Regions from separate parts of the Homo sapiens genome. Here all the other regions are linked to region 6. The links come from fine-mapping of genetic effects on gene expression. A gene starts in region 6. Each other region holds a variant in brackets. All regions are shown on one strand. Distances are between the middles of the regions.

Region 1 (4,655 bases), 310 kb before region 6:
TTTTATTAAGGGACAAGAATACTGTCTAGATTAGTGCACTGAACCCAGAATTACACCTCTTAGTTTTCCATTATTTTTATCTTTTTCCATTAATTGTAATGTCCTAAACCAAAAAATTATTATAGTTAGAGTCTCAAGGGACCAAAGTATGTGACATGGTCTTATGTTTTAAAATGACAGTACAACTTTAGGGCAATTTTCAGAAAGAACAATACCTAAATTCCTTGCTGATCTTGAAAGACGATTACTTGCTTGCTCAGAGAGTAAACCAAGTTTACTATCTCATGTGAAAAACTGTCACTGATACTAATCTGAAAAAAATTTACATTAAAATGAGGTTTTATTTTAAATGAAATGAAACTTCATATAGAGATTATAATATCATTGGTTATATGATAATTAAATACCAATTAATTATTACAAAGCTAGCATTTGTGAAGTTAAATAATTATTTGGCAAGAAAGATTATGAAATCCAAATTAAAAACACTAAGAAACTTAATTTGTCAAAATTACCATAAAACTTGCACAATGTCTCTTTGGAATTAATGAGACAGAACTCTGTGTGGTAGTCACATTGCAGGGTAACTTTACGTATTTCTAATGTAATAAATGTGCTTTTATCAATTAAATACACAGCTTTTAGTATTTAGCTGGTAACAGCTATCTTGCTAAGTGACAAGAAATATATTCATTAGGTTATGTGATTTAATTTATTTATAAAATTTATTCTGCATGGTAGATGTTCAAAATAGCTGAACTCATTTCACCACATTTAGTACTCATTCAGAGAATGCAGCTCCTATGTTTCGCTTGAAACTTTAATCTTAATTGAGATCTTTTGGTTCAAGGAAAATGCATCTGTAGCCAGGCTTAAAGATCGTGGCTACCTGAGGAATATCAGAGATTTTCCCCTTGAATTATTCAGTAACTATGACTGTGTCAATCTGTACACAGTTTCAAAACAGGGAGGGTTTAAAACTGTCTATCTGTTCTAGCAGTCAAATACTAAAGCACAATGAATAGACCATAACAGCAATTTGTCAAAACTGCTTCATGCGGAATCCAAAGTATAAATGAATTACATATATGTAATATTGTTATGTGCTTTAAGTTTATTGATATATAATAGTTTCAATATTTGGGAGATACATGAAATATTTAATAAACGTCTATGTACAATATGTAATGGTCAAATCAGGGTAATTAAGATATCTATCACCTCAAACATTTACCTTTTTTATGTTCGAAATATTCCAATTATCCTTTTCTAGCTATTTTGAAATATGCAATAAATTATTATTAACTATATTTTCTCTACTGTACTTCAAATACTAGGACTTTAAATAGAATATTTTTGTTTGTTGTTGTTGTTGTTGTTGTTGTTGTTGTTGTTGTTGTTTGAGACAGGGTTTCTCTTCTGTTGCCCAAGGTTGTGCAATGGCATGATCTCAGCTCACTGCAACCTCCACCTTCCGGGCTCAAGTGATTCTCCTGCCTCAGCCTCCTGAGTAGCTGGGACCACAGGTGTATGGCAGTATGTCCAGCTAATTTTTTTTGTATTTTTTATAGAAACAGGGATTTGCTATGTTACCCAGGCTGGTCTTGAACTCCTGAGCTCAAGTGATCCACCTGCTTTGGCCTCCCAAAGTGCTGGAATTATTGATGTGAGCCACACCTGGCCTAAATAAAATTTTTTCAAACTAAAGATAAGAAATACAGGATAGCACTTTTTAACACGGGGCTGAAGGGCCCCTGGAATCATTGTGAAATCTGCCTCTCAAGGCTTAATTGCCAGTTCTGTTCCCATATTGTTTCCACCAAACT[G/A]CCTCAAGCCTTCCACCACCATCTTCCAAACTAATGCTCACCTTTCCATCCAAACTTACTGTTCTACCTCCTACTCTCCCTTCTCTAGTCAATGTAACAGCTAATCTAATTAACTACACAGCAGGAACTAAATCCTATGTGTTTACTGAAGTGGTGCTGCTCACATTCTAATGTGTATAGGAATTACCTGTGGATCTTGTCAAAATGCAAATTCTGATTCTATAGATGGTGTGAATCTGTGATTTTGCAGTTCTGTCATGCTCCTGGGAGACTCTAGAATTCTGCTTGTCCACAGTTTATACTGGAAATAGACAGAGGCTGCTATAGTTTGGTTTGTTTGACCCCTCAAATCTCATGTTGAAATTTGATTCCCAATGTTGGAGGTGGTGCAAAGGGGAGGTGTTTGGGTCTTGAAGGTGGGTCCCTCATGAATGGCTTGGTGCTGTTCTCATGGTAATTAGTAAGTGAATTCTCTCTGTAGCTCTATTAGTTCCTCAGTCCCTGTGAGATCTGGCTGTTAAAAAGTGCCTGATGTTTCCTCCAACCCCAGTTCTTTCTTGCTTCCTCTCTTGCCGTGTGATCTCTGCACACACCAACTCCCCTTCACCTTTTGCTGTGAGTGGAAACACACTAAATCCCAGAATGGAAGCAGATGCTGGTGCTATGCTTCTTGTACAACCTACAGAACCATGAGACAAATAAACCTCTTTTCTTATAAGTTTCTCTGTCTCAAGTATTCCTTTATAACAACACCAATGGACTAAGGCAGAGGCTAAAAGGTAGCTTTTTTCAAGTTAGAGTGATATCTTTCCCATCTGGTCCAAGGTCTCAGTGCTTCAGAAAAATGAAGATTGCTCCGCTTAATTCCAAACCTACTGAATTTGAATCTCTGAAGGCTGAGTCCAGGAATTTGTAATTTTAAAAGTCTCTATAGGTGATTCCTGTATACCCTAAAGCTAAATTACAGCTTCATCTTCAACCCCATTCCTAGGTCTTTATCTCATAGCTATGTTTTGAGAGTTACCTTCTATAGACAATATTCTCATCCAAAGGAGCAAACCAAATAGTGGAGGTAGTAAAATAAAATGACAAGTTAGGTAAGAAATAGTTTTGGAAGAGTAGGGCATTCAGTCAATGATATTATGTCTTTATTCTAAACAACAACAACAAAAAAAAAGTAACCCTTTTATTTTCTCTGATGTAGGGCACTTTAAATATTACATAAGCATTTCTTGCAAATAAAGTTCTCTTGTGCTGCCAGCAATGGTGAGAGTGTTTGCCAGAGTAGGTGAGTCTCTGAGTTATCTCAGTATTTCCAACTTGCCAATCTTCTCTTTCTGACATTGCTTCCATTTACCATTACTTGGCACCACATGGCAGATGCTAAGTCATTGCTGGTAATTACATGCTTCAGTAGAAACTTAGATCCAGCATGCTCAGGAGAGTGTAAAAGCTGTCATGAAAATTTAAAAATAGAATCTCAAGCATGTGGCCTCTCAAAAGATCTATATGCAGCTTTCAACATCAACATTTCAAAAGAAGTGAACATGCTCCAAACTGAGCAGGTTTCTTCTGAAAATGTAAAAATTAAATGTATCTAGGTTATTTTGTGCAAAATCACCAAAAAAGCCATAAATGAAATGACTTTTGAAAGAACCGCTGCTGAAAATACCCCCAAACATATATAGACTTCATTCAGCCTTTACTCTGCATTTACACTGCCACCCTTCTTCCCACAGGGAAGTCACTGACTAATATCAATTTTATTCACTTCCACAGCTTAGAAGTTTGCTGTTTTATAGATAGGTATGTTGAGTATACTGAGATATTTCTGAGGAAGTGATATGCTGAGTAGTATTTTTTGACATTACTTTGTGTTCTCCAGATGAACTCAATTTTAAGCATGGTATGTTTTGTTGCTCAAAGCAGAATCCAAGAGAAACTCAAGATTTCATAAATTCTATACAGAGTTATGCAATTTAAAACTTTGACATTTGTAGAAATGTGTAAGGATTCAAGTCAAATTTGGTTTATTCTAAATCACTCTGCCTAACCCTAGGGAAAAATCAAATAGAGAAAAAATTCTTTGATATCAGGGAAGAGAAATAGTCACTCTGTGTCTATATGAATACATATATAGTAAAAATGAAAGAACATAAGGGAGAGAAGGGTTAAAAGAGAAAAATAATTTAACTAAAATAGAACTCTGGTACATTGAAAACTAGAACAGCAAATTTTCTTAATATATTTGATCATAACTAAATACCTCTTTCACTCCTACTTATTTCAACTATATGCTTCATTTTATAAATGAAATGCTTTTTTTATTATCTGTCAAAAATAAAAATTCAATTTAGTTCTCACATACATGTGAAAAACTAGTAAATAGCATTGTAAGATGCAAAAGTAGGCAATGTGGAGAATGAAATTATAAATAAGAAACTTTACTCTTAAGATGATAGTCACAGTGTCGGGAGAGTACAAGGTCGTTAATAAGATAACCTTACAAATATGCATATTAATAATCAGGATATAAGTGATATAGAGGGGTAGAGAGTGCTAACAGGGCTCAGAGGAGTGACTTCATCAGGAAGGGGAGATCAAGGATTGCTTCCTGAATTAAATGCTTTGTGAATGGGACCCTGATCCTTGATGAATGGGACTCTGATGCTTGATTAATAGGACCCTGATATTTGTGTAAGATTTTGAAAGAATGAATTTGAAAATGAAGATCTAGCAGAAACTACAACAAAAAAGACAAAGGCTGAAAAAGAAAGAATGTGTTTGGCTGTATTGTGGATTTGAGTTCCTTTTGGGTTCATGGAAAGA
Region 2 (4,655 bases), 75 kb after region 6:
TGCAATCCCAGCTACTCAGAAGGCTGAGACAGGAGAATCACTTGAACCCAGGAGGTGGAGGTTGCCGTGAGCTGAGATCGTGCCATTGCACTCCAGCCTGGGCGACAGAGGGAGACTTCGTCTCAAACAAAACAAAACAAAACAAAACAAAAAAAAGAGATACTCAAACTGTATTATCAAATAATTAATGATGTAACCTTTCCAGAAGTTGAAAGTGAGCCGCTTACTCCTAATATTATAGTCATCCCTGGGTCTTTGATTACTAGAAAGGCTGAGATACAAAGGACTCTGTAGTATTATAAGATTTACAGTATGTTATACTAGTAATAAGTAACATAAGAGGTATTATGGGTACTCTGAAATGTAGCCACAAATTTGGTGTTAGAGACCTGAGTTCAAGTGCCAGATTTGCCATTTCTAAGCTATATGGCACATTACTTTTCAGAATTTCATGAATGAAATAGGATAATAACAATAGCTACTCTAAAGGGATATAATGAAAATTAAATAAGGTTTCAATGAGCTGGGATCATGCCACTGCAGTCTAGCCTGGGTTGACAGCATGAGGCTGTTTAAAAAAAAAAAAAAAAATTAACCATAGCATTTTTCTGCTTAAAATCCTTATAGAGAATCAAGTCTCAATTTGGCAGCCCCCACTTCTGCCACTCCCAGGAAGCCTGCCATGCCGAGGATTCCTTCCATGCCGAGTACTCCTTCAGCCCTTCACAACCATCCCCGGCTACTTTTTATACAGGCTCCTCTACCAGAACTTCTCTTTATCAGCTCTGTAGTGCCTGTATCAAATGTGTTGGGCACACAGTAGGCTTCTTTACTGAAAGAAACAACAAACATTTTCTGAACCCCATTTGCTGAGTAAATACTAAGTAAAATTAAAATACATAACTTTAGATTGAGAAAGTACTATAATGAAGCTAATTTATATAAATCTTCACATCAAAATAGTTCATATTAAAGAATGTAATTATATCCATATATATCAAATTGGCTGAAGTTTTCTGAAAAAGCTTACATGCTCATGGTTTCAAGGTACTAATTAACAGAAAGACTTTCAAAACTGAAATAGGGGTCTCAGCAGCTCGGGCAGCGGGAGGAGTGCCAGTAGCCAGGCAGCCCAGCTTCGCGAAGGCTCTCAGCTCCGTGGCCCACAGGTGCCCAGCAAGTGCCCCTCCTGCCGCCAAGATGCCCAAGAGGAAGGTCAGTTCAGCCGAAGGGGTGGCGAAGCAAGAGCCCAAGAGGAGATCTGCGCACTTGTCAGCTAAACCTGCTCCTGCAAAAGTGGAAATGAAGCCAAAGAGGCATCAGGAAAGGCTAAATCTTCAGATTAAAAAAAAAAAAAAAATGCAAACAAATGGGAAAAGGGGAGCATAGGGAAAACAGGCCAAAGTGGCTAACCAAGAAACTAAATAAGATTTACCTGCAGAAAACGAAGAAACTAAAACCGAGGAGACTCCAACCTTTGATGAAGCAGGAGAGAAAGAAGCCAAGTCTGATTAATATCATATACCATGTCTTATCAGTAGTCCCTGTCTCCCTTCTTGTACAATCCAGGGTATTTTTATCAACTGCTTTGTAAGTGCAAGTCTTTTAGTAGCTCTAGAAACATTTTAAGTAGCAGGAACTCCCACCTCATTCCATTGTTAAGTTTTTTCTGAGGTGAAATAATTCTCTGGTTGTTTATTTTTTGGTGAAACCAGAGAATAGTATGGGATATTGAATTACAGGAAGTTTTGACTGTCTTGGATGTCAGCTTAACATTCCACAGATGGGGGCTTAGTTTTTATATACTGTAATACAAAATATACTAAATGGCAATACAGAGTCAGAATCCTGCATTTAATGTCTTGAACATTTTAAATTACTTCTATTGCCATGTTTTTTTTTTTTTTTCACAGAATTGTTTCCTAAAGAAAACCACTCCTTGATCATGGCTCTCCCTGTCAGAACTGTGTACACTATAACATCTTTGGTCACAGAAGTCCTGATTTCCTAATAACTGTGTTAATGTGCTGTGAAAGATTGAAAATTTGGGTATATAGTGTACATGCTATTAAACTGTGAATTGGTAGAACGTGTACAGCTTATCAAACACTTGTAGATACTGGCTCTTGATAATCCTCTTAAGAAAAATTTGCCTCCAAATGTTAAGTTGGAATGTCACTATAATAACTATTTAAAAAAGAGGCCGGGTGCAGTGGTTCACACCTATAATCACAGCACTTTGGGTGGCCAAGGTGGGAGAATTACTTGAGCCCAGGAGATTGAGACATGCCTGGTCAACATGGTGAGACCTTGTCTCTACAAATTAAAAAAAAAAATTAGCCAGGCATCGTGGCATGCACCTCCCAGTTACTTGGGAGGCTGAAGTGGGAGGATCGGTTGAGCCCGGGCAGTCAAGGCTGCAGTGAGCCGTGATCACTCCTCTGCACTCCAGCCTAGGCAATAGAGAGAGACCGTTTCAGAAAAAGGAATTACAATAG[AGG/G]TTTTCTAGATTTTTGGTATGTATGTTAAGAATTGTGTACAATTTGAAATGTCTGTATACTTATTCTCAACACGACAAATAAAATCTCCATTACAAAAGAAAAAACTGAAATAATTCTTAGTAAAAACAAAAAAAAATCAAAGGTAGAGATTAAGGGATCCAAAGGTCTGTTTTACATCACTTTAGCTATCTGCCGAAACAAGTGAAGACTTCCATACTCCAGAAGCTAATAATTAATATTGTTCAAGTCAACACAATGTATATAATAGATCTCCTAAGTGAGAATATGAGAATATCTTATCTCAGAATTCCTTTTTATATAACGGATATACAAATTAATATATCAGAAATACTGGTCAGGCACAATGGCTTATGCCTGTAATCCCAGTACTTTGGGAGGCCAAGACAGGAGGACTGTTTGAGCCCAGGAGTTTGAGACCAACCTGGGCAATATGGTGAGATCCTGTCTCTATTTAAAAAAAAAAAAAATCAGAAATATAAGCATCATGGCATTAGGGAGGATTGAACTTAGAAAACATTTAAATTCTGAATCTTTCCTGAATGACATTATCACAATCATTTGAACACCTACAAGTCTAAACTTCCTCATCTTTTAACTAAGGAAGACAATACTTTCAATATGATAATTAGATAAAAGCTATTCCTTTTTTTTTAGAGACGGAGTCTCATTCTGTCACCCAGGCTGGAGTGTGCAGTGGCGAGATCTCCACTCACTGCAACCTCTGCCTCCTGGGTGCAAGCAATTCTCCTGCCTCAGCCTCCCAAGTAGCTGGGATTACAGGAGTCTGCCACCATGCCTGGCTAATTTTTTGTATTTTTAGTAGAGACAGGGTTTCACTATGTTGGCCAGGCTCATCTCGAACTCCTGACCTCAACTGATCCATCCACCACGGCCACCCAAAGTGCAGGGATTACAGGTGCGAGCCATCATGCCTGGCCCATAAAAGCTGTTTCTAACTTCAAAAATATTATGCAAGTCAAAGAAAACATTTCGCTAAAAACACTAAAATCAAAGTTTGACACATCGGAACTCTATTATCTACAGTATTTAAAACTACATGAAGCAAATTCTAAATTTTAACATAAACATAAATTCTAAAAGTAACAAATACATATACAAAAAAAGACTTTAGAACAAGGTTTTATGATACATATGTGAGAATTTTAAAAAATCACTATACGACAAATTGATAGAAAGAAAAAAATGTATCGAAAAAACAGTGTGATTTTATTGCAGTACACTATTTTCTGACATTTCAATTCAGATCTAGAACCCCATATTACAGCAAAATCATTATCTAAATTTACTGAGTATGAATAAATAGTGAGAAGGCCAAGCTTGGGTTTATAGCCTGCTTTTAAGCCCTGATCAAGTCAAATTCTTAGTGTCCATTTTTTCATCTCTAAAATATAAGGGGGTAAAATAAGAATGTCTCTAGGTCCTTTTCTATATTAAAATTCTAAAATTCTTACTATGCATAATCAAGAAGAACTAGGGGGATAAAAAGAGATGTAAAATATTCCAGTTCAGCATACAGCACAATAGATAATCCTTGCTAATCTGTACATACAGCTTAATTGGAAAATTAAGAACTCAGCAATTTCTATAAATGGTCTAGATTTACAGTTATATTTATTTAGGCCAAGAATGATGGTATTAGGGAGCTAAGTATTCCCTCAGTGAAAAAGTTCATAGCAAAGAGGACAAAACAGACCACTAGAAACATTGTGTACTGTATCTTATTTTAGACTTGGCCACAGCAAACAATTTACTAATAAATTTGAAGTAAAGCTTTGATAGGTTGTATTTGTGATGCTGAAAAAACACAGATGGACAAGAAATCAGTTCCAATTAAAGGTTAACTCTGTGGAAGAATGGTGGGAGATGAATAGGGGGCAGGAAGTTTCAAGGATTTGTTACCTACTTATTAAAATAAAATTGAAATATGATGACTAAAGATTAATATTTATAAAACCTGGCAGGCATATGGTACTTATTATATCTTTCTTTTTGGTTAAATAACAGTAAAAACATTTTTGTTAGTTATGTATGCATAATATATAAGAAGTTATATAACATGTATATTTTCATATAAACAAAGAATTTTGTTGCCAAAATTTGTATGCAAAATTT
Region 3 (4,655 bases), 64 kb after region 6:
GATCTAAGCTTAACCAGAAGTAGTTTGTGTGGATAAAATAGGCAGCTGTCTTTCAGTATGAATAGAGAGGAACCCCAGGCAATCATCAGTGAAAACAAATCAACTATGCTGAAGTAGGAATAAGGGAACTAACATGTATCAAACACCTCCTTGGTACCAGGACTTTGTTAGGCATCAAGGGTGCAAAGATGAGTAAGATATGATTGCTGTCCTCAAAGTACAATGTAATATAGAGAAGTGGAATATTAATAGGAATAACACAGAATTTGTATGTTCTTTAAAAAAAATAAGCTAGAGACGATAGTGTGTAGGAATTCAAGGGAAGGAAGGTGAAAAAGGGAGGGGCAAGTTATGGTCTAGAAAGGCTTTCAGAGAAGAAATAAAATCTTGAAATGAAGACTTCATTGTGAGTGAACACATAAAAGCTACATAATTGTAACAGAGAAGGGAGAACTATATTTTAGGCAGAGGGAGCAATTTAAGTACAGATAAAATGATGGCAATATGCCCAGTAAACCAATTCAGATTAAGGATTTTTTTTCAAGGTTATATAGCAGGCAGAGACAGGCCTCAAACAGAGGTCTTCAGGACTTCCAAAGCCTGTTTCTTTTGATATATGGAACACCTTCTATTCTTTCCTCTGGTTCCTATTCAGCATTTGTGTTTCACAACTTAAGACTAAATGTTCAGGTACAACTTTCCCCATAAATCCTTTTTTGATGATTCCTCCTACTTCTACTATCACCTTTACCTCTATCATAATATTCTGTCCTCTACTGATCTTCACAATAGCCTATACCTTCCCAACACATGGGACTATGTCTTTGTATCCTTAGCATTCAGCACAAAGTATATAGGGCTCAATACTACACCACCAAACCACTGAGATAACTGAAGCTCCTGTCCCATACATCCACCCTTTCTTTTTTCCTTTCATGTATTTATCCATCTATCCTCGTACATGTATTTAGGGCCCATTATAGATGATAAATCATACAAGAACCAGGAATACAAAGATACATGGTCTCCAATTGAGAATTTCAGTAGAGTATATGTGGTAAGACATCATCTCTAGAAAGTCCAAGATAAAATGCAAATATACAATCAATAAATTTTTGAGCATTTCTTATAAGCTAAGTACTATGCATGGTTCTAGAAATACAAAGATTAATAAAATCCATCTTCTGATCCCATAGAGCTCTTAGTCTATTGGGGAAATATATATATATACATATACACACACACACACACACATACACAAATAACTACATATGAAACATAAATATATATATGAGTAACTATAATTTTTTTGTTTTTTTTTTCCTCTTCACAAATCACAAATAACTACAATATAATGAAGACATGTTAATACCCAACAATGCTAGGGACCAGTCCACGCAAAGAATTTTCGCACCAAAAATAACAATAGTTCCCTATTAGGAAACACTATCTGATAGTCAAGAGAATCCTAGATTTTTTTTTACCTAGGCTCATGACTGCTTACAACAGACCATAATCCCCAACTACTACGGCAGCAAGGGGTGGCCATGAGGGGAGGCTAGCCAGTGATGTGTTGTTAAATATTTGGAGGAGAAGAACCCTGATACATGTATGGTATCTGCCAATTTCCACAGTATAAATACTTTGACCATGGCCAATTTCAAACTAACAATGTGAGGTACCTAAACATAGAGTTGGGAAGAGATATGCATAATCGGCTCTCACTAGTTGATATGAGCCAATATGAAAAGCAGGTCCAGAACACCACTGCTTCTAGTCATGATGTGAACTAAAATGATGCAGCAGCTTTTGGTTCAGCTCCTAAAGAAAAGGAGGATGGCCTCCCCTTACCCTTTACCTCTTCCTTCTAGCTGAAATGCACATTTTGTAGTGAACTACCTTCAACCATGTAGGTGAGGGAGAACACTGGGGATGGCAAAGCAAATAGAACAAAGAATTGAGGACTAACACGATGGAGCTGACAAACCAGTCCTAGACTACTTTTGCTTAGGCTGTTATGAGAAAGAAAGAAACATCTATCTTGTTGAACCACTGTTATCTTAGGTCTCTGTGAGAACAATTGAACCTGTGTCCAACTAATGCAATTACTGACAACCATGAAGAAGAGAAGTTTGATTTAAAGAAGTAAAGTTCCAGGAAGGGGTGTTACTTTTATATTAAGAAGCTATTGTGAAAAAAATTTAGAAAGAATGAATAAAACCTAGTATTTGAAAGCACAACAGGCAGACTATAGTCAATAATAATTTAATCGAACATTTAAAAACAACTGAAAGAGTAACGCAAAGAATAGATGTTCAGGGAATAGATACCCAATTTTTCATGACGAAATTATTATGCCTTGCATGCCTATACAAAAATCTCATGTACCTCGTAATATATACACCTACTATGTACTCACAAAATTAAAAATAAAAAAGGGAAAAAAAGCTATTGTGAATAAAAAAATTAGCTAGGCATTGTGGAGCACACCTCTAGTCTAGCTACTCTCGAGGCTGAGGCAGGAGGATAGCTTGAGCCCAGGAGTTTGAGATTACAGTGAGCTATGATCACGCCACCGAACTCCAGCCTAGATGACAAAGTGATACCCTGTCTCTAAAAAACCAAAAAAATATGACCAGGCTCAGTGGCTCATGCCTACTATCCCAACACTTCGGGAGGCCAAGGCAGGAGGATCACTTGAGGCCAGGAGTTCAAGACCATCCTGGGCAACATAGTGAGACTCACCTCTATAAAAAATTATAAATAAATAAATAAATAAATAAATA[G/AATAG]AATATGAATTAGAAAAAAGCTACTGTGACATCATAGATAAAAGAAACTGAGGGTTTGGATTTAGCCAATGGCAACACAGTCAGAGGAGAGGTAGACACATCTGAAAAGAAACTAGCAGATAACTTTTTCTCAATTTCACACGGAAATAAAAAAAAAAAAAAGAAGGCTGAGAAGTCAGAAAAGAATCAGAAATAAGTAGAAAAGTAGGAGCCATGAGAGAGGTGTTTTAAGAAGACCTAGGCGCATGGCCTAAACAATTGTGACACCAAAATAAGCAAAATGCCTTTAGAGAATTTACAGCCTGAAGAAAAAAGATACACAAACAAAATGTAATTAAGTAGTGACCAAGTAGGTATCAGGAAGAGCAGGCCAAAAAAGTGGACATGATCAATTCTACTAAGTAAGGTAGTAATTGGGGCAGCTGGGAATTAAAAAGGACTTTATAAAAGAGGAGACTATACGACAAAAATACATCTTTAAACATCAGTAGATATTCTCTCTAGTTAGGTAAGTGAGAACAACACAAAAATATAAAGGAAAGAGAAGGCTTACATCTGGGAAGTTTCAAGTAGTTCTAAGAAATTATAGTCCTAAAAAAATTTCAAAGTAAGAAACTGAAGAGTAAATATGGGATGAAGGACAAAAAGAGAATGGGGAGTGGGGCTCGAAGTTGAAGGCAGCTTTGACATTAAGCATTTTCTAGACTCAGAAAAAGGAACTTATGAATATATGGAGGTGGAATACATAAGAGAAAGAAAGGAAAGAGGATGTTCTAAGTACACCCAGTATACATAACAAATTAGGTAATCTGATTAGCACATTCTAAGGTGCCTGCTCCCATGAATGTCAGGCTTTAGAGGAATGGATAAAAGAAGGTTAGAAGAAGGTGTCATGGCCTCCAGGTCAAATCTGGTTTGCCACTTGTTTTTGTATGGCCCACAAGCTAAGAATGTGTTTTACATTTTAAATGACTAAAAAAAATTAAAAGAAAAATATTTCCTAACACATGAAAATTATATTAAATTCAAATTTCAGTGCCGGAAATAAATTTTCAGTGGAGCTTGGCCATGCTCATTTGTATACGGATTGTCTTCTTTTTTTTTGAGACGGAGTCTCACTGTTGCCCAGACTGGAGTGCAGTGGCGCAATCCCAGCTCACTCAACCTCCATCTCCGGGGTTCAAGCAATTTTCCTGCCTCAGCCTCCTGAGTAGCTAGGATTACAGGTGTGTGCCACCACACCTAGCTAATTTTGGTATTTTTAGTAGAGATGGGGTTTCGCCATGTTGGCCAGCCTGGTCTCGAACTCCTGTCCTCAGGTGATCTGCCCACCTCGGCCTCCCAAAGTGCTGGGATTATTACAGGTGTGAGCCACCGTGCCCAGCATGTATGCAGATGGTCTATGGCTGCTTTCACACTACAGTATAAAAATTTTGTAGTTCAGAAGGAGACTGGATGACTGCAAGGTCTAAAATATTTACTACTCAGCTCTTTACAGAAAAAGTTTGCTGACCACTAGTTTAAATAATGATAGTGAGTGTCCTGTGAAGATATAACGTAGAAGATAGCATAGACATAGGCTTTAGAAAAAATCATAGACAATAACAGATAATTTACTTAACATTACAGAGTAGCATTTGAGGTGAGAAAATGTTTTTTTCCAACAGTGAGTTTTGCAACCTGTTAATTAATAAATGCCCTTCCACTATTTAGTAAGCATGATATCTTACTGCAATCATCAGTTTCCAGAAACAAATACATGTTATGCATTTCTCCCAATTCTTACCCTTTAGATCAGCAGCACCAGGGACCAGTTTTGCAGAAGACAATTTTTCCATGGACTGGAGGATAGAGGTGGTTTCAGGATGA
Region 4 (4,655 bases), 31 kb before region 6:
TATATGTTTATTGTTGTGTATCAGTCAGAAGTTGGAAATGCATACTGTCATTCACTGTCTTTCTACGTGCAAGAGGTAATGAGTGATTAAGGCACCATTTAATTGTATTTTAAATATTATAGATAATTTTGCTTTAGTGGCCAGGCGTGGTGGCTCACGCCTGTAATCCCAGCACTTTGTGAGGCCAAGGTGGGCAGATTACGAGGTCAGGAGTTCAAGACCAGCCTGACCAACACAGTGAAATCCTATCTCTACTAAAAATACAAAAAAAAAAAAAAAAAAATTAGCTAGGCTTGGTGGCGCACACCTGTAATCCTAACTACTCAGGAGGCTGAGGCAGGAGAATAGCTTGAACTTGGGAGGTGGACGTTGCAGTGAGCCGAGATTGCACCACTGCACTCCAGCCTGGGCGACAGAGTGAGACTCTGTCTCAAAAACAAACAAACAAACAAACAAAAAAATTTGGTTTAGCATTAAACAAGAGAATTACATGGGAGTAGGGCATATGTCAAAATCGCTGTTGGAACCCGAACAATAATGTTTCAAAATGGCTGTGTTCTTAATGAAACCAAATGTTCAGTGGCCAGGTCCTTCTGGAAAATTCTCAGAGGGGAGATAAGCGCTAACAACCAGCTACAACTTGCTAGGGGCTGATTCATCCAGAACAATAACAAAACATGCATCCTGATTCAAAGCTATTCCTAAGGGGCTGCTCAGATTCTGGTAAAAGAAACAGGGCTATGAACCCCCAGGGTTGGGTCCCAGTGAGCAAACAACTTTGAACTACAGTAAAATTGCCTATGCCCTTTAAAAGACAATGCACAGCAATACTACACATCACTGGGGGTGGAGGGAGGGGCGGTGAGCATTACAGTATGAGCGATAAAGGGGAAGAAGTTGGGAATTTTTTGAGTGTAGCCTTTGGAGGAATAATCATTGACACCTACACAGCAAGCCCTCCACTGGGGGCCTGACATGTTCTATTATGCCTGTGTAAATTACATCAGACACCAAAATACACTTTTGTATTAACAGTCCTTACCTTAACAGCTCTATCTGTAGAAGAGGCAAATTCCTCCTTTGACTTATCCTACAGGATGCCTTCTGAGAGTCAGAAGAAAACAACCAGCTTCGATCATTTGAACACGGAGCATCCACTAACACCTAGAGAAAAAAAAGACAAGTGATGCAAATATGCACTGACAATCTATTCTCAGGCACGAAGTAGATAGAGAAGTTCTCTAAAACATGGTAAACAAATAGGAAATAAGTAAAAACATTTCTTTTTTAACTGAAAATACACCACAGTAGGTTTTTCCTTATGACATTTCCTCACTAACACTTTTCAGAAAAACTTACCATGTACTTTCAGTGTTTGTTTTTGGGGGCTTAGGATGGGAGAATTAAAGTTTACTAGGTCTACTAATGCTATTTGATATCCTTGACAACCACAGCAAAAATTTTTACAAAAGTTACTCATTGTAATCAGACATTAATAATATTTCTGAATTCTCAGCACTTATTTCTAAGAACTAATATTTCAACTTCAGCTTACTGAAATAACCTCTTTTTCTTCAACTGTCATACTCTGATATGAAATGTTACTGAATTAAAGCAATACAGTACTGACCCAAATAATATCCGATCTTTTCCTGAGTATCTTTGAGTTACCTGCCAATATAAAACATTCTATAATCCTCAATCCCAATGTTACTGCTTCCTTTGAACCATGCTGACCATCAAATGAAAACTGCTTCCATGTTCACTTTATCAAAATTTTCCAGGGTACTGAGAAACTGTATCAGGCTATGTCTGAGAACAGATGGAAAATAACAACCACAAAGCAACATAATAGTGGTATTACTGGGCGTCCATCAGTTTGTCACAATGTAATAAAAGTACCTTGTCAAACATTTCAGGCTGGGCATCTCCCATTTTTCTGCCATCCAATTCAGACACTTTAATTACATTTATCAAAGGCTGTGGGATGAAAGATTCCAACGTCTGCCTTAGCCACCTCAATCTCAGACTATCATATTCATTACAATGAAGATAACCTAAATAAAAAGGATTAAAAAGTTTCAAATGAAGGCAATGGAACTGTTAAATTTCTACTTTTCAGCAAATAAATTTCAGAAAGAAATTAACTCATCATAATTATGCAGAAATAGGGCTCAGAGGTAAACATTATTATTTTCTTATGCTTTAAAAACAGAAATAAGGTATATGTGTATGTATATATAGATG[C/A]ACATACCTACTACATAAAACATTTACAACAGTCATGCCTACACAGTCTCTCAGAAGCTCTCAGCATTTGCTCCACCAAGTTTAATTTTATTAGAGGTAAAACCTATAAAAAATTATAAATTCCTAAAGATATGTTATACAACCAATACCTCAGACATGGCTCTCACTCTAAAGAACTAACGCTTAAGAGTAAACACAGGTGGTAATTCAGGTGCAAGAAGATGAAACTCACATTGCGGCAGACGCAGGAACTGTCCTGGCTTAAAAGCTTCCTGTCCCACAGGAACCATTATTCCTTTTAAAAACTCCACAGGCTTTCAGTGTCTCCACAGGGACATGCCCAGTTATAAGAATCACTGCACTCAGAAGACCCAAAGCATGGCACCTCTATCAGGTCTCTAGGGGTTATTTATTCTTTCTCCCAGCCCACATGCAGTTTACCAATCAGGGTCATCTTTATCATAAGCAATCTTGCCTAGATCATAGTGACAATCTCTGTCAGGTTACCAAGGCAACAATACTAGAGAACTAACTGAACATTACAGTTTAACGTAGAAGGGAAAAAACATTGTAAAGCCTTTGCTCAAATACATACATACATACATATACACATACATATATGTATATGTATGTGTATATGTATTTTAACAACTCCACAGGCTTTCAGTGTCTCCACAGGGACATGCCCAGTTACATATTTTTTTTTTTCTGATTGTCATTCCACTGTTAAAAAGTAAAAAAAAAAACTTTTAGTGACTTCCCATCATCCACTGAGTAAAGTTCAAATGCAGAGTCCTTAAATCAAGGTCCATAATAGCCAGACCTCAGGACAATGTTTCCATTTTAATCTCCCACTATTTCCCCAGTATACTCTGTGCTCTACCAAACTTGATGGACTACTCCATTTCCCAAACATACTCAGTACTTCTCTTATTTATCTCACATGAGAGGTGTTTCTGTGTATGGCTTACCTTCTCTACTACGAGGGCTCCATATTTCTTTTCTTTTTTTTTTTTTTTTTTTTTTTTTTGAGATGCAGTCTCGCTCTGTTGCCCAGGCTGAAGTTCAGTGGCATGATCTCGGCTCACTGCAACCTCTGACTCCCAGGTTCAAGCGATTCTCCTGCCTCAGCCTCCCAAGTAGGTGGGATTACAGGTGTGCGTCACCACGTCTGGCTAATTTTTGTATTTTTAAATTTTTGTATTTTTAGTAGAGACGGGGTTTCGCCATGTTGGCCAGGCTGGTCTGGAACTCCTGACCTCAGGTGACCTACCTACCTCGGTCTCCCATCGTGCTGGGATTACAGACATGAGCCACCGTGCCAGGCCCAGGGCTCCATATTTCTATAGGGAAGACACTCAGGAGATGGCATCAATTTTGTTGAGAAGAGGAGTAGAAAATCATCTTAAAGCACATCTGTACAGCTAGTTTTCATGTTTATTTTGGGTGTCTTTTGGAGGACTCACTAATGGAACTTAAATAGGTGTCTAAAAGCCCTCGTCTTAGCTTGAGATCACTAGAAAACAATGTAAGACAGAAGTTCATGGTATGGACAGGGTGCAATTCTAAGGAAGCAAAAGTGAGAGAAAAAAGGAAGTAAATCATGGAAGTAGCATGATAGATACAGGAGGATTTGTAATCAAGCTGCCTAGAGCTTTGGTCAGTCTCTCAGGGCAACTCTACAGTTTGAAATTACAGAGCCTTCTCAGGAACTGGAGGTTAGTGGAGGAAGGAGGAAGAACAATCTGCTGGCTGCTTTTTGTCTCTTTCTCTCATTGGTTAAAGTCCACAACAAGAGCTGGTAACTTCTACCAACTTTGGGGTTGTGTACCTGACCCCTTCAGGCAACTGCTAAAAAAAACCAGACAGTACCCAAGGCCAGGTATTGCAAGCATACAGGTGAGGTGATCTCTGCTTGTCACCTGGCACTCATTGGGAGGCTCTTCAATTTGTGGCAGTGGTAGCATTAGCAGAAGATAACTGCATGAATGGCATGAGCCTTTGCTAGGGTTTCTCCAGTCTCTGGAAACAATTCAAGTGGCTCCAGCCACGAGGTGAGGGATGGGAGTAAAGATGAAGCCAAACATATCTGTAGTGATGCATAAGCTGGGTCCACAAGATAACCCCCAAAGTCACCCCTGCCATTGTTCACCACTGCCTATCAAATACTAAGGGCCTCAGAGAAAAGAGGTCTTACTCACCTTTCATTCAACTTTCCTCTTTTTCTAGTTTAAATGTTTTACATTCTATTTTGACTTTTCTAGTGGTAACCCAAAAGACTTTTAACATGCACGTGTTAAGAAAAATCTAAGCTAAGTCAATTTTCACCAACTTTCCTAAAAGATACAAGAATCTCGTAACACTCTTGCTTTAGATGCTACTGTTATTGTATATCTGGGTTTTCTTTT
Region 5 (4,655 bases), 140 kb before region 6:
TAAAAATGTATGCGTCATTGCACTGGAAAAGGGAGAAAGATAATAAATATATAAATGGTATAGAATATTAGAGGAAGACAATGATAAAGAAAAGTATAAACCAAGGAGAGGGGATTAGAAGTGTCCCAGTGATGGAACAGATTGCAATTTTAAATAGAATGGCCAGGGTAAGCCTCATTAAGAAAATGACACTTGAGCAAAAATTTTTAGAAATGGAGGGAGTTAATCATTTGGAAATTTGAGAAAAGTATATTTCTGGCAGAAGAAATGAACTGAAAGACCAGTGTGTCTACAGTCACATATAGGATGAAGACAGCAGTAATAGATGAGTCAGAGTTGTAAAAAAGAGAGGAGTGTGCTCTTATAGGCCATTGTGAGGATTTCCCCTTTTAGTTTAAGTGAAATCAAAAGCCTTTAAAAGGTGTTGAGCAAAAAAATAACATAATCGCCAATGTTAATTAACAGGACCACTCTGGCTGATTTGTAGAGAATAGACTACACGGGATAAGGCATAAGCTAGAGACTAGGGTGCTGTGGCAACAGTCCTTGTGAAGGATGCTGGTGGTACGTATCAGAGAGATGGTGGCAAATTGTGGTGAGATTGGTGAGAAGTAGTTGGATTGCAGAGAGATTTTGGAGGTAGAAATGGAAGTATTTTCCTATTGAGTTGACTGTGAGAGCAAGAGAATAGAATGGATCATCGCAAGGTTTTGGCCAATGCCACAGGAAAGACAAAGTTGCCATTTTCTATAATGGTGATGACTGAGAGAGGTAATGAATATCATATCATAAAATCTGTATAGTAAAATATTCTGCTGTTTTGTGAATTTGCCTCTTTCATTCTAAGATTTGAGGTAATCTTTCCCTTTCTTATCATATAGTATTGCAGCATTCTTGAGGTAATTTCATATAATTCCATTTGTTTTTATTTTTATAGCCATTTTGTTTAGATAGGCCAACAAGATTTTATTATTCCCCATGTAACAGATGAGCTGACTAAGGCTTAGAAAAGCTATGAGATTAACCTAAGCCTCCAGTGTGAATACAATGGATTGTACACTGGAACACAGTATTTTGCCTCTTTGCTTGACATATTTTAAACCATATAATGCTTTCCAAGAATCAGGACAGTGCAGGATAATTTCAAGACAATGTAGTCCAAAACCTTATCATTATGCCTGAAGCAACTAACAGAGAATCTAAATAACCTTCTCTGGATCAGTCTGTTTTGTTTTTCAAATCTAGAAAAAGACTTCATATTGACCCTCTATTTTGGCACAGTAAATGACTTCTGTACTGTATTTTTTAATCAGAAAATTGCCCACTGAGGTAGAAAGAAAACCAGGAGAAAGCAATGTTCCAGAAGCTAGATGATGAAAGTCTATGAGAAAGGAACAACCTACTGCACCAAGAAGGAGGAGGCTGAGAAGTGGCCATTGCTTTTAGCGACATGACCATCACTGAGGACCTGGACAAGAACAGTTTAAGAGGAGAGGTAGGGGCAAAACCCTGACTGGGGAGCTTTAAAGATGAAGAGTGGAGAAAACTTGGAGGCAGCACGGAGTTTCTAGTAAACTGGAGCAGAAAAATGGAGCGAAGAGAAAGAGTAGGGTTTTTTTTCTTTTTTTTTTAAGATGGGGTGGGGAAGAAGAAGGTTTGTGTATAAATGGGAACAGACCAGTAAAGAGGAAATACATGGTGATGTGAGAGACGAAAGTAAGTATCATGGCAGTAATGCCCTTGAGTGAGCAAGAGGGATAAAATTTAGTGCCCAAGGGGAGGGACTGACATTGGAATAGAAATGTGTGTAGTTATTCTTCACAGGTGATAAAATTAAGCATGCAGGTCTAAAGCCTGGTCAGCAGGTAAGGGAGAAGTCTGGAAGTTATCTCTGGAGTGTTCTGAGTGTTCTGTGGAGTAGCAAACAGGTCATATGCAGAAAGTGAGGACGAAGGAGGATAAGATGGAAGAGAGGGAGAGAAAAAAGGTGTAACCCAGTCATGGAAAAGATTGAAAGAGTGAAATCCAGGGAAGAACAGCGCCATTTCCAGGTAAATGTATTTATTTACTTATTTTTAAATTTAATCAAAATGTATTTATTTACTTTTTAAATTGATAAATAAAAGTTGAATATATTTATTCTGTACAACATTTTGTTTTGAAATAGGTATACATTGTGGAATGGCTCAAGCGAGCTAATTAACATGCACATTACCACATTTAGT[T/G]ATTTCTTTGTGTGGTGAGAACACATAAAATCCACTCTCAGCAATTTTCAAGAACAGAATACATTGTTATTAACTATGATTATCATGTTGTACAATAGATCTATTGAACTTATTCTTCCTATCTAACTAAAATTTTGTTATCATTTGACCAACATATCTCCAACCTCCTTCCCCCAGCCTGTGGTAACCATAAGTTTATTCTCTATTTACATGAGTTCAACTTTTTCTACACTCCACATGTGAATGAGATCCCTTGGTATCTGTCTCTCTATCTGACGCATGTCACTTAACATAATGTCCTCCAGGTTCATCTGTGTTGTTGCAAATGATAACATTTTCTTCCTTTTTAAGTAAATAGTGCTCTATTGTGTCTACATATCACATTTTCTTTATCAATTTATCTATTAATGGACCTTTAGGTTGATTCCTTATCTTGGCTATTGTGAATAATGCTGCAATGAATATGGGAGTGCAAGTATCGCTTTAACATAGTGATTTCATATTCTTTGGACATAGTGGGATTGCTGGGTCATAAGGCAGTTCTATTGTTAATTTTTTGAAGAGATTCCTTACTGTTTTCCATAATGGCTGCACTAATTTATATTCCCACTAACAATGTACAAGGGTTCCCTCTTCTCCATATTGTCTGCAACACTTTCTTTTGTCATTTTGATAATAGGTATTTTCACAGGTGCAAGGTGATAGATATCTCATTATGGTTTTAATTTGCAGTTTCTGATGATTGGCAATTTTGAGCGTTTTTTCAAATATCTGATGGCCAAAGCTCTAGGAGTCAAAATAGCATAGCACTGGCATAAAAATTGACCCATAGAGAAATGAAGCTGACTAGAGAGCACACAAATAAATCCATGCATTTTTGGTCAATTGATTTTGACAAAGGTGCCAAGAACACAAAAGGGAAAAGATGGTTTCTTCAATAAATGGTGTTGGGACAACTGGATATTCACAAGTAGAAGACTGAAATTAGACCCTTATCTCACACCATATGCAAAAATGAACTCAAAATGGATTGAAGGGCCTGCTGCTGCAGGCTCCATGAGACAGCTGAAAAGTTGTGAGTGTTCAAAGTGTGAAAGATAGAACATCTGCCCCCAAACGCACATCCTCACTGGGAAACCTGAAGGATCTAATTATGGGAGAGGATTTGACCTTACTGGGAGTGGAGATGAATTTAGAGAGCTGGGAAAAATATAGGGGTAGAGGAAGCAGCAGGAAGAGCCCTGTGGGCACTCTTGTTCCCCAGTGAAGCTATTTCTGACTTTGTCTCACAAGGGTCCTTGGGGAGGGCTCCTAGTGGAATTAGGGAAAGACCACAGGGAGAAAGAAACTTCCAGCTGAACTTTGTAACAATTTCAACCAAAGCAAAGTTTCCTGGACCAAATCTCGGGGAGGAGGTGATCTGGGATTGCAGATAGGAACACAAAAGCCATAGCAGGCAGACAGGAACAAAACCTGAAAGTCCTGCTTGTTTTTTTAGCAAGAAGGCTTGTAGCCTGGGCCAAGATCTTAGCCTTCTCACCAGCTGCCTGGAGATAAACTTGGTGCTACTGGGGGGATATGGTGGGAGTGAGACTGACCTTGCTGACTGCATGGGAATTGGTGAGGCCTGTCCCTGCTGATTTTCTCCAACTACCCTGGCAACCTGTATGATGCAGCAGAGGCAACTCTAATCCCCCCTGGGAATGTAACTCCATCAGCCTGAGAACCACACCTCCCATCCCCCAAAGAGGCCACAACAAGTCCCCTTACGGCCAGCTTGTATCCAGCTTGTATCCTCCCTAGACCACTGTAACTGATGCTCTCTTGAAAGTGCCACCTCCTGCCTGGAAGCCAACCAACACTAGGCCAGTGCACTAAACAAAACCACAACCAAAGACCTTCTCAGAGTCCACTTCACTCCCCTGCTACCTCTACCGGAGCAAGTGCTGATACCCACAGCTGAGAGTCCTAAAGACGAAACACATCACAGGACCCTTTGCAGACATTCCCTAGTACCAGCCCAGAGGCTGGTAGCTCAGCTGGGTGGCTAGACAAAGAAAAGAAATAACAATCACTGCAGTTTTTCTCTCAGAAAGCCCCATCCTTAAGGGAAGCGGGGAGAACAGCATATCAAGGGAGCACCGCATGAGACAAAAGAATCTGAACAACAGCCCTTGAGCCCTAAATCTTCCCTCTGACATAGTCTACTCAAATGAGAAGAAACTAAAAAAAAAAAAAAAAAAAAAAAAATCCCAAATCTGATAATATAACAAAACAAGTTTCTTTAATATCCCCCAAAGATCACACTAGCTAACCAGCAATGGATCCAAACCAAGAAGAAATATCTTAATTGCCAGAAAAAGAATTCAGAAAGTCAATTATTAAGCTAATCAAGGAGGCACCACAGAAAGGTGAATGTCAACTTAAAGA
Region 6 (4,655 bases):
TTCTTTTTGTCAAAGTAACTCCTCTAAGTCACCAAGACCCAGCTTCCCTTCAGGCCTTTGCTGGCACCCTCAGGCTTTGTTAGATACTTGGATCACAGTATTTACAAATTAGTTTATATAGTTGTAACCACACCCATCTCCTCACTTCTCCCATTAACACTAACTAGACGGCATGTAAACTGGACATGCAGACTGTCTTGCTCTGTATTCCAGAGAGGGTTATATAGTGTATCAGGCACTCAATGTCAAGAACCCATACAGTAATCCATACATTAACATCATCTTACCAAACAGACAAATCACATTTCTCCCACTTCCATGCATTAAACATTCCTTATTTTTATATTTAAATAATTTTGTGTGTATATGCACGTGTTCAAAATATACCCAGCCATCGACATAGGAAAGAAATATGATTACCAAATAAAGTGTACCTTTGGCTGAGATAAAGCAGTGCTGGCTTTAAAGATTTGTTGTATTATCTTCTAAATTTCAGAAATCAGTCAAATATTCCAAATTTTATGTTTTTTTCTTTTACAGTATAATTAATTTTGTCAAACTAGTGGGCATTCCTATTTCAAGGATCAAAGTAATTGCTCAAAGCAAAGGCGTAACAATTTGTGCTTACCATCCCGACAAAGTTTTATTTCCCCTTTCCAACATGCTATGATTCATTCTATTTCTTCTTAGTTGTTCCTTTCTATAGCTTCAGTAGGAAAAGGCAACCAGATTTAGATTCCTTTGCCTTTTAACCTCACAGCATCCCTCCCACAAAAAGGAGGACTACATATTGTACTTTGTTCCATCATAAAGCATCGAGATGAATTATACTAACCTTACTGTATTCCAGGCATCTCCGAGTTCTTTGGAATACTGTTTTTCAAAATGATCCAACACAACTTTGCAAATCTGTTTTGCAAGCTTCCCCTCTGATTTTGCTTTCAGCTATGACGATAAGAAAAAGTTGCTGACACACAGTGATATTACAAATTTACTGAACGTCAACATTAGCAAGGTCTTTTTTTAAGACAAGAACACTTTTTTTGGATAATTACTAGTTCTTGAAATGGAAGCAATACCTTACATGTACCAAAACTGTACATTATCTAATTATGAAAAAGCAAGGTTTTTCCAAATAATTATTTTCCAAATGTGAAGCAAAGGTTAAAACAGAATCTACTGGGGCTGAAGAAACTGTCAAAAGGAACAAAATTAATTTTAAAAAGTCACTGTAGGGGCTAGGCAGGTGGCTCACACCTGTAATCCCAGCACTGTGGGAGGCAGAGGCGGGAGGATCACATGAGGTCTGGAGTTCAAGACCAGGTTGGCCAACACGGGAAACCCGTCTCTACTAAAAATACAAAAATTAGCCGAGAGTAGTGGTGGGCGCCTGTAACCCCACCTACTCAGGGGGCTGAGGTGGGAGAATCGCTTGAACTCAGGAGGTGGAGGTTGCAGTGAGCCGAGATCGCGCCACTGTACTCCAGCTGGCTCATGCTTTGCAGGGACGAGGCGAGAGGATCATTTCCCAGTTCAAGACCAGACTGGAAAACATATCAAGGACGTGTCTCTACAAAAAGTAAAAAAAAAAAAAAAATTAGCCAGGCGTAGTGGCCTGCTCCTGTAGTCCTAGCTACTAGGGAGGCTGAGGCTGGAGGATCGCTTGAACCCAGGAGTTCAAGGTTACAGTGAGCTATGATGGAGCAGCTGCATTCCAGATTGGGTGACAGAGCAAGAACTTGTATCTAAACAAAACTAAAAAGTCACCGGGGATGCTGACATCAAGAAAAATTGGTGAAAGGTATTTGAGAACTCTGTACTATCTTTGCAACGTTATTTTAAAGTGAAAAGTTAATTTAGGGAGAAAAGTCACTCCAATTTCATCGTGAACTTCCTTGCAATTGTTTCATTTATTCATCCAAGAAACGTGTATTCAATGCCTACTATGTAACAGACACTGTTCTAAGCTCCCGGGATACCGCTGTGACACAGAAAACAAATCTCAGCCCTCCAAGAGCTGGAGGGAGTGGGTACTAGAAGTCTGCGAGCTGGACGGAAGGGACTCAGCATTACAGCACTCAGCATTATTTCAGGGCTTGACAGTAAAGCCAAAGAAACGCTGATCTCGCGAGGGGACGAACAAAGGTGATGTTCCCCCATCCCAGCACCCTCCCTCGCCACCTCGGCCGCGTCCAGAAGCGTCTCATTCAGATAGAGGTACCCAGCCGGGCCCCAGGTCTCACCTGGGTCAGCATTGTCCCGCTGAGAGCTTTCAAACAACAGGTGTACGCGAATCAGTATCAAAAAGCCTCCAGGGAACTGAAAAAAACAGTCTGACTTCCGGGATTCGCGGGCATCCACTTTCATTCTCACGTTTCCTCTTCAATTTCTCGCGAGATACTGATTTGCTCGCGCTATAGAATTCTTGTCGAAGAGGCTTAGCTCCCGCGGGAGATTTCGTGCGCAGTTACTTCCGGTAGCTGGTAAAGGCTGATACTTCCCAGGACGCGGAGGTAACGGGCCAGGGCCAAAGCGACTTTCGCTACTTGGATTGGTCGGCGTAGCTTTGGGCGGCCGGACCTTAGAAAGTCACACATCTGCGCGCCTGTGCGGCCCCTGCTTCTGCGGATGCTGAGGTGGGAGGATCGCTTGGGCAGAAGTTTGAGGTTGCAGTGACCCGTGATCGCGCCACTGCACTGCAGCGTGGGCGACAGAGCGAGGCTTTGTCTCAAAAATAAATAAAAAGTCGCATATTGTGCTGAACAGTGTGTATATGCATGGGGCTCAATAAAGGAATGAGTTTTGGGGTTATGTTGTATGATGACTGATTTAAAATATTCTCAAAGCGAAGCTAGTTACTGACTTAATCTACCAAATCTAGTGACCCCTGTTAACCTAGACATTCAGTACCCAAGGATAAAAGGGTGGAATATAATGAAAAAGAAATTAAGTCATGCTTTTCCCCAGACCTGGCCCATGGGGATAATCTCTCCTTTTAATGGAGAGTGTTAAACTGAAGTAGGCATGTAAAGCGGTTACAACAGTGATTAGGAAACAGTAAATGCCCAAATGTTAGCTGCTATTATTTTCACTATTGTGATCATTGTGATTTTTGTCGCGTTGATACCAAATGCGTGAAGACCAAAAGGACCCTCCACTCTAGCCTCCCCAATTCACCTTTACAAGGGAGCAATGTTTAATGGTTCTCCAAGGAAGATGTTTATTACACCTATTTTGACACGAATAGAAGTTTATTTGCTCTTTTGGTGTCATGCTTCAGTAACTATCATTTGTAGCAGCAATCAGCAATTAGAAAAAACCGGTTTGATATGGTCCCTGATAGTTAATAATCATCATTTTGAGTTGTTCCTTGATGCTCATATCAATATACGTACATGCTATAGGTACAAGTCTTATATTCATGTAAAAACATGTCTTTCCTTCTAATCTGATTTGAAGCTTAATATATTTATTTATTTAAACAAGTTTCCAAGTCACCTAAAAAATGCATCTTATTAGAATTTAGATTTGGTACAAAAGACTATGATAATCAGGAATGAAATGATGCCATCTCTTGGATGCCGTCTGTTTAATGTTTGTGGAAAAGTCGGTCTAACCTTTCAGCCTCTGTATTTTTTATAATTTTATAAATTTATATTTTATAAATATTTTATAAATTTATACTTTATAAATATATTTTATATAATTTATTTTTCTATGTTCATTCCAGAATGTTGCAATTAATTAATACAGTGGTATTGTATTTGCAATGTAGGCACGTAAAAAAATTTGAAGAAGGGAATTTCGCGGCATTCTTGGCCTGGCTTCCTGGCGTAGCCAGCAAGTTCGGAGGTGTTAACCGCTGCTGTCATGTTTCTTTTGCTAAACTGCATCGTCGCTGTGTCCCAAAACATGGGCATCGGCAAGAACGGGGACCTGCCCAGGCCGCCGCTCAGGAATGAATTCAGGTATTTCCAGAGAATGACCACAACTTCTTCAGTAGAGGGTAAACAGAATCTGGTGATTATGGGTAGGAAGACCTGGTTCTCCATTCCTGAGAAGAATCGACCTTTAAAGGATAGAATTAATTTAGTTCTCAGCAGAGAACTCAAGGAACCTCCACAAGGAGCTCATTTTCTTGCCAGAAGTTTGGATGATGCCTTAAAACTTACTGAACGACCAGAATTAGCAAATAAAGTAGACATGATTTGGATAGTTGGTGGCAGTTCTGTTTATAAGGAAGCCATGAATCACCTAGGCCATCTTAAACTATTTGTGACAAGGATCATGCAGGACTTTGAAAGTGACACGTTTTTTTCAGAAATTGACTTGGAGAAATATAAACTTCTGCCTGAATACCCAGGTGTTCTCTCTGATGTCCAGGAGGGGAAACACATCAAGTACAAATTTGAAGTATGTGAGAAGGATGATTAATATGAAGGTGTTTTCTGGTTTAAGTTGTTCCCCCTCCCTCTGAGAAAAGTATGCATTTTTACATTAGAAAAGGGACTTTTGTTGACTTCAGATCTATGGATAATTATTTCTAAGCAACGTGTTTTTATTCCTCACTAATCTTGGCTATATCAGATACCATTTATGAAACATTCTTGCTATAACTGTCTCTCCAAGACCCCGACTGAGTCCCCAGCACCTGC
Region 7 (4,555 bases), 61 kb before region 6:
TCCATAGGCATGATGTTACCGTGGGAGTTTAAAATTTCACTGATCACATCTTGATTTTCTGCCTTGGAAAGCGTGCATGTAGAGTATACAAGTATCCCTCCAGGACGTAAGGCCTTAATTGCAGACCTGTGTGCAATCAGAAAAATGCAAAAGATTAGTTAAGTATATTAAAAAGAAACCAGGGGGTCTGACAGCAAAGATTACGTACTTAAAACTAACCTTACTCTGACTTAGACTGCAATTACTTTGGATGTTTTCTAGTCTTTTTTTTTTTTTTGAGACAGAGTCTAACTTTGTCACCCAGGCTGGAGTGCAGTGATGCCATCTCGGCTCACTGCGATGACTGCCTCCCAGGTTCAAGTAATTCTCCTGCCTCAGCCTCCCAAGTAGCTGGGATTACAGGCGGCCTCCACCATGCCCAGCTAATTTTTGTATTTTTAGTAGAGACGGGGTTTCACCAAGTTGGTCAGGCTGGTCTTGAACTCCTGATCTCAAGTGATCGCCTGCTTTAGCCTCCCAAAGTGTTGGGATTACAGGCGTGAGCCACTGTGCCCAATCTCTGATCTTACACCTATTTCTTTCTAACTTATCCTTGAAGACTTGGAAAATGATAATCAGACCAATCAACATGGAAAAGATAGAGTAAGTTAGACTGGTTGATTGCTATTCAAAAAGTAGGAAAATAGGGGTAGAGAACAGAATAATGAGTTTGTCTTTAAATCGATGGGAGTAAAAATAAAAACAAAGCATACATATGAAAGCATACATAAGAAGTCATTGATTCCATACTTCCAATATTGCAATTTGGGCAACCAGGTAAAAAGTTGGAAGGTTTTTATCTAAGAAAATTGAATAAACTATTTGTGAAGACTTCTAAGGCAGCCACTATGGGTTTTAGACCCCAAATCAAAGATCTCTGCATTCTACCATGAAGAGAGCCTCCAGAGTAACAGTCAGCTCTTCAGAAAGTTGTATCACCAGATAAAAGGTCTCGTCCTTAAAATACACCTCTAGTACTTTTATTGTCTCATTATTAAATAAAAATGTATAACCAAGGATTGCTAGATAATTAAAGATCAGAAATGCTTAAGCAATATGTAAGAGAAAGAACAAAATAAACAATAATGACACAGGAAGAAACAGAAAATTCAGGGAACAAAAGAGAAATATGATCTATTAAATGCAGACAGATCAGCAAAGATACAATATCCATAACAGAATGCCATGAAAAAGGATCAAGAAGAGAGTTCTTAGAAACTAAATATATGGTTACCAAAATAAAGAATATTCTGTAGAAGTATTTGGAAGTTAAGGTTGAAGAAATCTCTCCACAAAAAGTACAACAGTAACAGACTGACTGAAAATGAGACAAGGTGGATCAATTACATAGGTTCAAAATCCAATTAATAGGAGTACTAGAAAGATAAGACACTCATTATTATTTATTGAGCCTCTATTATATGCTGAGCATTGTTCTAGGTGGTAAGTATATCTCAACAGACAGAACAACAACAAAAAAATCTTTCACCTCATGAAGCTTACATTCTAGCTGGGGGACATAGAATATAACAAATTAAATATGTTTTGAATTAAACTGTGTCCCTGCAAAATTCCTTTGTTGAAGTCCTAACCCATAGTGCCTTAGAAGGTGACTGTATTTACAGACAGGGTCCATAAAGAAGTAATTAAGTTAAAAGTAGTTCATTAAAGTGGGCCCTAATGGAATATGACTGGGATCCTTCAAGAAGAGGACATTTGGTCACAGAATTACAGGGGAGGACCATATAAAGAAGACGCAGGGAGAAGACAGCTATCTACCAGCCATGAAGAAGGACCTCAGACAAAACAAATCTTGCTGATGCCTTCATCTCAAACTTCTGGCATCCAAAACTGTGATTAAATAAACTTCTAGGCAGGTGCGGTGGCTCA[C/T]GCCTGTAATCCTAGCACTTTGGGAGACCGAGGCAGATGGATCACCTGAGGTCAGGAGTTCGAGACCAGCATGGACCACATGGGGAAACCAGCCAGGTGCGGTGGTGGATGCCTGTAATCCCAGCTACTTGGGACGATGAGGTAGGAGAATCACTTGAACCCAGGAGGCAGAGGTTACAGTGAGCCAAGATCACACCACTTCACTCCAGCCTGGGTGAAAGAGTGAGACTCCATCTCAAAAAAAAAAAAAAAAAAAAAAGAAATAAAATAATAAAATAGAAAATAAACTTCTATTGTTTAAGCCACACAGTCTTGTTATTTTGTTATGGCAACTCTAGCAAACTAATATAAATATATACACACATACATAAACATACACATATACAAAGATAAACATATATACATATACACATATACATACATACATATATGTACAGGTTTGCACATTTTTTTATTTAGTATGCAATTTAGTGATAGATAACTATGAAGAAAATAAAAGCAGGATAAAAGGATTAGGAGTGCTTGGATGAGAGGGATTATAATTTTAAATGGGACAGTTAGAACAGTTTGCCATTTCAGAAAGTGACATTTGAACAAAGTTCTGAGGAGGTAAGGGAGTGAGCCAAGCAGATATCTGAGAGAAGAGCATTCCATACCAAAGGAATAGCCAGTGACAAGACCTTGAGGCATGTTCAAGGAAAGCGGAGGTCAGTGTGGCTGGAGCAAGGTGAGCCAGGGGTGGTAATCTGAGACGAGGTGACAGAGTTAAGAGGAGGGGGTGGAGAGGGTCTTGATGAAAACTGTCAAAACTTCACCCTTATAATGAATAAAAAACACCCACACTTAGATCCATCATTGTTAAATTTTTGAACTTCAAGAACAAAGAGGTGTTTAATGCCTCCAAAGAGAAAAACAGGTCACCTATTACGAGCCCAGGAATCAGACTGGTATCAGTGGAGAAATACATTCCAAATCCTAGGAAAAAGCAATTTAAAGTGAATTCTATTTGCAGCCAACTCATAAAATAAATATGTAGCAAGAATCCAGAAACTTGCAGATATCTCATGACTCCGAAATTTTAATTCTAGTAAAATGAGGAAATAAAGCAAGAAAGAGGAAAAATGTAATTCAGAAAAGAGTGCATGCAACATAGAAGAGCAGTGAAAGGAGTGAAGCCTCAGAGTGAGAGCTGCGTGGGAGGCCTGGAAGGCAACTACTGCAGTCTGGAAAAAGAGGGAGCTCTCCAGAAGGAAGGGAGAAGGGAGAGAAGTAAAAGAGATGAAATGACTGAAAACTGAGAAAAACTTGAAGATTTGGTATACATAATTGGGAGGGAAAGGGAGAGATCAACTTGTCTCATCTATCTGATTCTAGAAAAAATGTTTCAGTGGTATTCTGCTCATGAGATTGAACCAAGAGACAAGGAATTTTAATTCTAACATATTATTCCATTATGCAGTGGACAATATTTATAGAATTAAACAATATACACCACTTATGGGTCTTCAATGTTCAGAATTACTCCAAAGACCAAACTTACTATTGTTACAGAACAGATTTTAAGGTCTCAGAAAGAATATGATCAACCTTGACAACATGAAAGTACAGCTGTAAGATACTGGGAAGTAGAAGGGAGAGAGAAATGGAAGGCAGGGTGGGCGTGTAAGTGTTCTTATTTTATAAAAATAAAAGGCAAAAGACATTTGCCTCTAATTATTTTTTTAAAAGAATAAAGATAAATGAAGAAAAAAAGACAAAAAAGGTGTGATGTGTATTTAAGAGAACTTTCCCCCACTAATAGAATAAGAAATGTAGGTCTAAGTGTATGGTACTAAGTTTCAGAGCCGACAGAGAGAAACTGAGTACAGTGTGAGATTGCAGGGTGCAGGGTAGTGTGATGAGGGAAGGGTGGTGTAAGTGACATAAATCCTTGGGATAGGGCAGTAGTTAATGTCTAATTTTTTGACAATTTTAGAAAATGAATAAACGTATTATTTAGAGATTTGGGGGTGACCTGAAGAATGAATTAGGAACCAAAATCATTAGAAGCAATTGCCTCTGAGGACTAAGACTGGAGGAAGAGAGGAAGAGTTGCAGGGGAGCAATCCTTTTCACTAGGAGCTCATTTGTAGTTTAATTTTTTACCCATCTGATTTATTTCTGTAATACAAATTAAAGGGGAGATTTGACAAAAGAATAAATATCAGAGCTTTTGCCATGGAGGTCACTTAAATTGTTTTTTTTTTTTTTTTTTTTAGGTGGGGGGATGAGTCTTGCTCTTGTTGCCAAGACTGGAGTGCAGTGGTGCAATCCTGGCTCACTGCAACCTCCACCTCTCCAGTTCAAGCAATTCTCCTGCCTCAGCCTCCTGAGTAGCTGGGATTACAGGCACCTGCCACCACGCCTGGCTAATTTTTGTACTTTTAGTAGAGACGGGGTTTCACCATGTTGGCCAGGCTGGTCTCAAACTCCTGACCTCAGGTGATCCGCCCGCCTTGGCCTCCCAAAGTGCTGGGACTACAGGCATGAGCCACCACGCCTGGCCAGTTATATGTATTTTTAAAAATTTTGACTGTTAAGGGATAACCTCTCTAGAAAAGGTATTCCCTGAGGTTCCAGATAACTA

Alleles and levels. Positions count from the first base shown, and alleles are read on the strand shown. Sizes are in standard deviations (SD) of each study's normalised expression. Not every link is listed here.
In carriers of allele AATAG in region 3, the expression in naive CD8 T cells of the gene that starts at base 2,466 in region 6 tends to be higher than with G alone (large effect, 1.9 SD a copy in Schmiedel 2018).

Evidence for each region. PIP is the estimated chance that this variant, and not a neighbour inherited with it, causes the effect. A credible set is the group of variants that fine-mapping cannot tell apart.
Region 1: its variant is the best candidate, but not a certain one, in a credible set for the expression of DHFR2 in anterior cingulate cortex (GTEx, PIP 0.78).
Region 2: its variant is the best candidate, but not a certain one, in a credible set for the expression of DHFR2 in whole blood (INTERVAL, PIP 0.66).
Region 3: its variant is the best candidate, but not a certain one, in a credible set for the expression of DHFR2 in naive CD8 T cells (Schmiedel 2018, PIP 0.68).
Region 4: its variant is the best candidate, but not a certain one, in a credible set for the expression of DHFR2 in nasal epithelium (TOPMed, PIP 0.63).
Region 5: its variant is the best candidate, but not a certain one, in a credible set for the expression of DHFR2 in whole blood (INTERVAL, PIP 0.69).
Region 7: its variant is the best candidate, but not a certain one, in a credible set for the expression of DHFR2 in tibial nerve (GTEx, PIP 0.88).

Annotation. Positions count from the first base shown.
Region 1 is chr3:94,372,247-94,376,901 of GRCh38, reverse strand. No RefSeq gene overlaps it. Among named protein-coding and RNA genes, the nearest start is that of NSUN3, 310 kb to the right of the region's middle. The variant G/A (reference allele first, on the strand shown) is at 1,827.
Region 2 is chr3:93,985,492-93,990,146 of GRCh38, reverse strand. All of the region lies in intron 1 of ARL13B (ARF like GTPase 13B), which reads right to left. It also overlaps the pseudogene HMGN1P7. Among named protein-coding and RNA genes, the nearest start is that of ARL13B, 7.7 kb to the right of the region's middle. The variant AGG/G (reference allele first, on the strand shown) is at 2,499.
Region 3 is chr3:93,997,219-94,001,873 of GRCh38, reverse strand. All of the region lies in intron 2 of ARL13B (ARF like GTPase 13B), which reads right to left. Among named protein-coding and RNA genes, the nearest start is that of ARL13B, 19 kb to the right of the region's middle. The variant G/AATAG (reference allele first, on the strand shown) is at 2,787.
Region 4 is chr3:94,091,542-94,096,196 of GRCh38, reverse strand. NSUN3 (NOP2/Sun RNA methyltransferase 3) reads right to left here. Exons shown (of 6, transcript NM_022072.5): 4 at 1,903-2,057; 5 at 1,043-1,164. Among named protein-coding and RNA genes, the nearest start is that of NSUN3, 31 kb to the right of the region's middle. The variant C/A (reference allele first, on the strand shown) is at 2,248.
Region 5 is chr3:94,202,168-94,206,822 of GRCh38, reverse strand. No RefSeq gene overlaps it. Among named protein-coding and RNA genes, the nearest start is that of NSUN3, 140 kb to the right of the region's middle. The variant T/G (reference allele first, on the strand shown) is at 2,226.
Region 6 is chr3:94,060,727-94,065,381 of GRCh38, reverse strand. It overlaps DHFR2 (dihydrofolate reductase 2), which reads left to right and starts at 2,466. Exons shown (of 2, transcript NM_176815.5): 1 at 2,466-2,636; 2 at 3,776-4,655. The coding sequence starts at 3,871. The coding sequence ends at 4,434. NSUN3 (NOP2/Sun RNA methyltransferase 3) reads right to left here and starts at 2,321. Exons shown (of 6, transcript NM_022072.5): 1 at 2,244-2,321; 2 at 836-945. The coding sequence starts at 2,255. RefSeq lists an enhancer at 2,188-2,427.
Region 7 is chr3:94,121,782-94,126,336 of GRCh38, reverse strand. NSUN3 (NOP2/Sun RNA methyltransferase 3) reads right to left here. Exons shown (of 6, transcript NM_022072.5): 6 at 1-126. Among named protein-coding and RNA genes, the nearest start is that of NSUN3, 61 kb to the right of the region's middle. The variant C/T (reference allele first, on the strand shown) is at 1,930.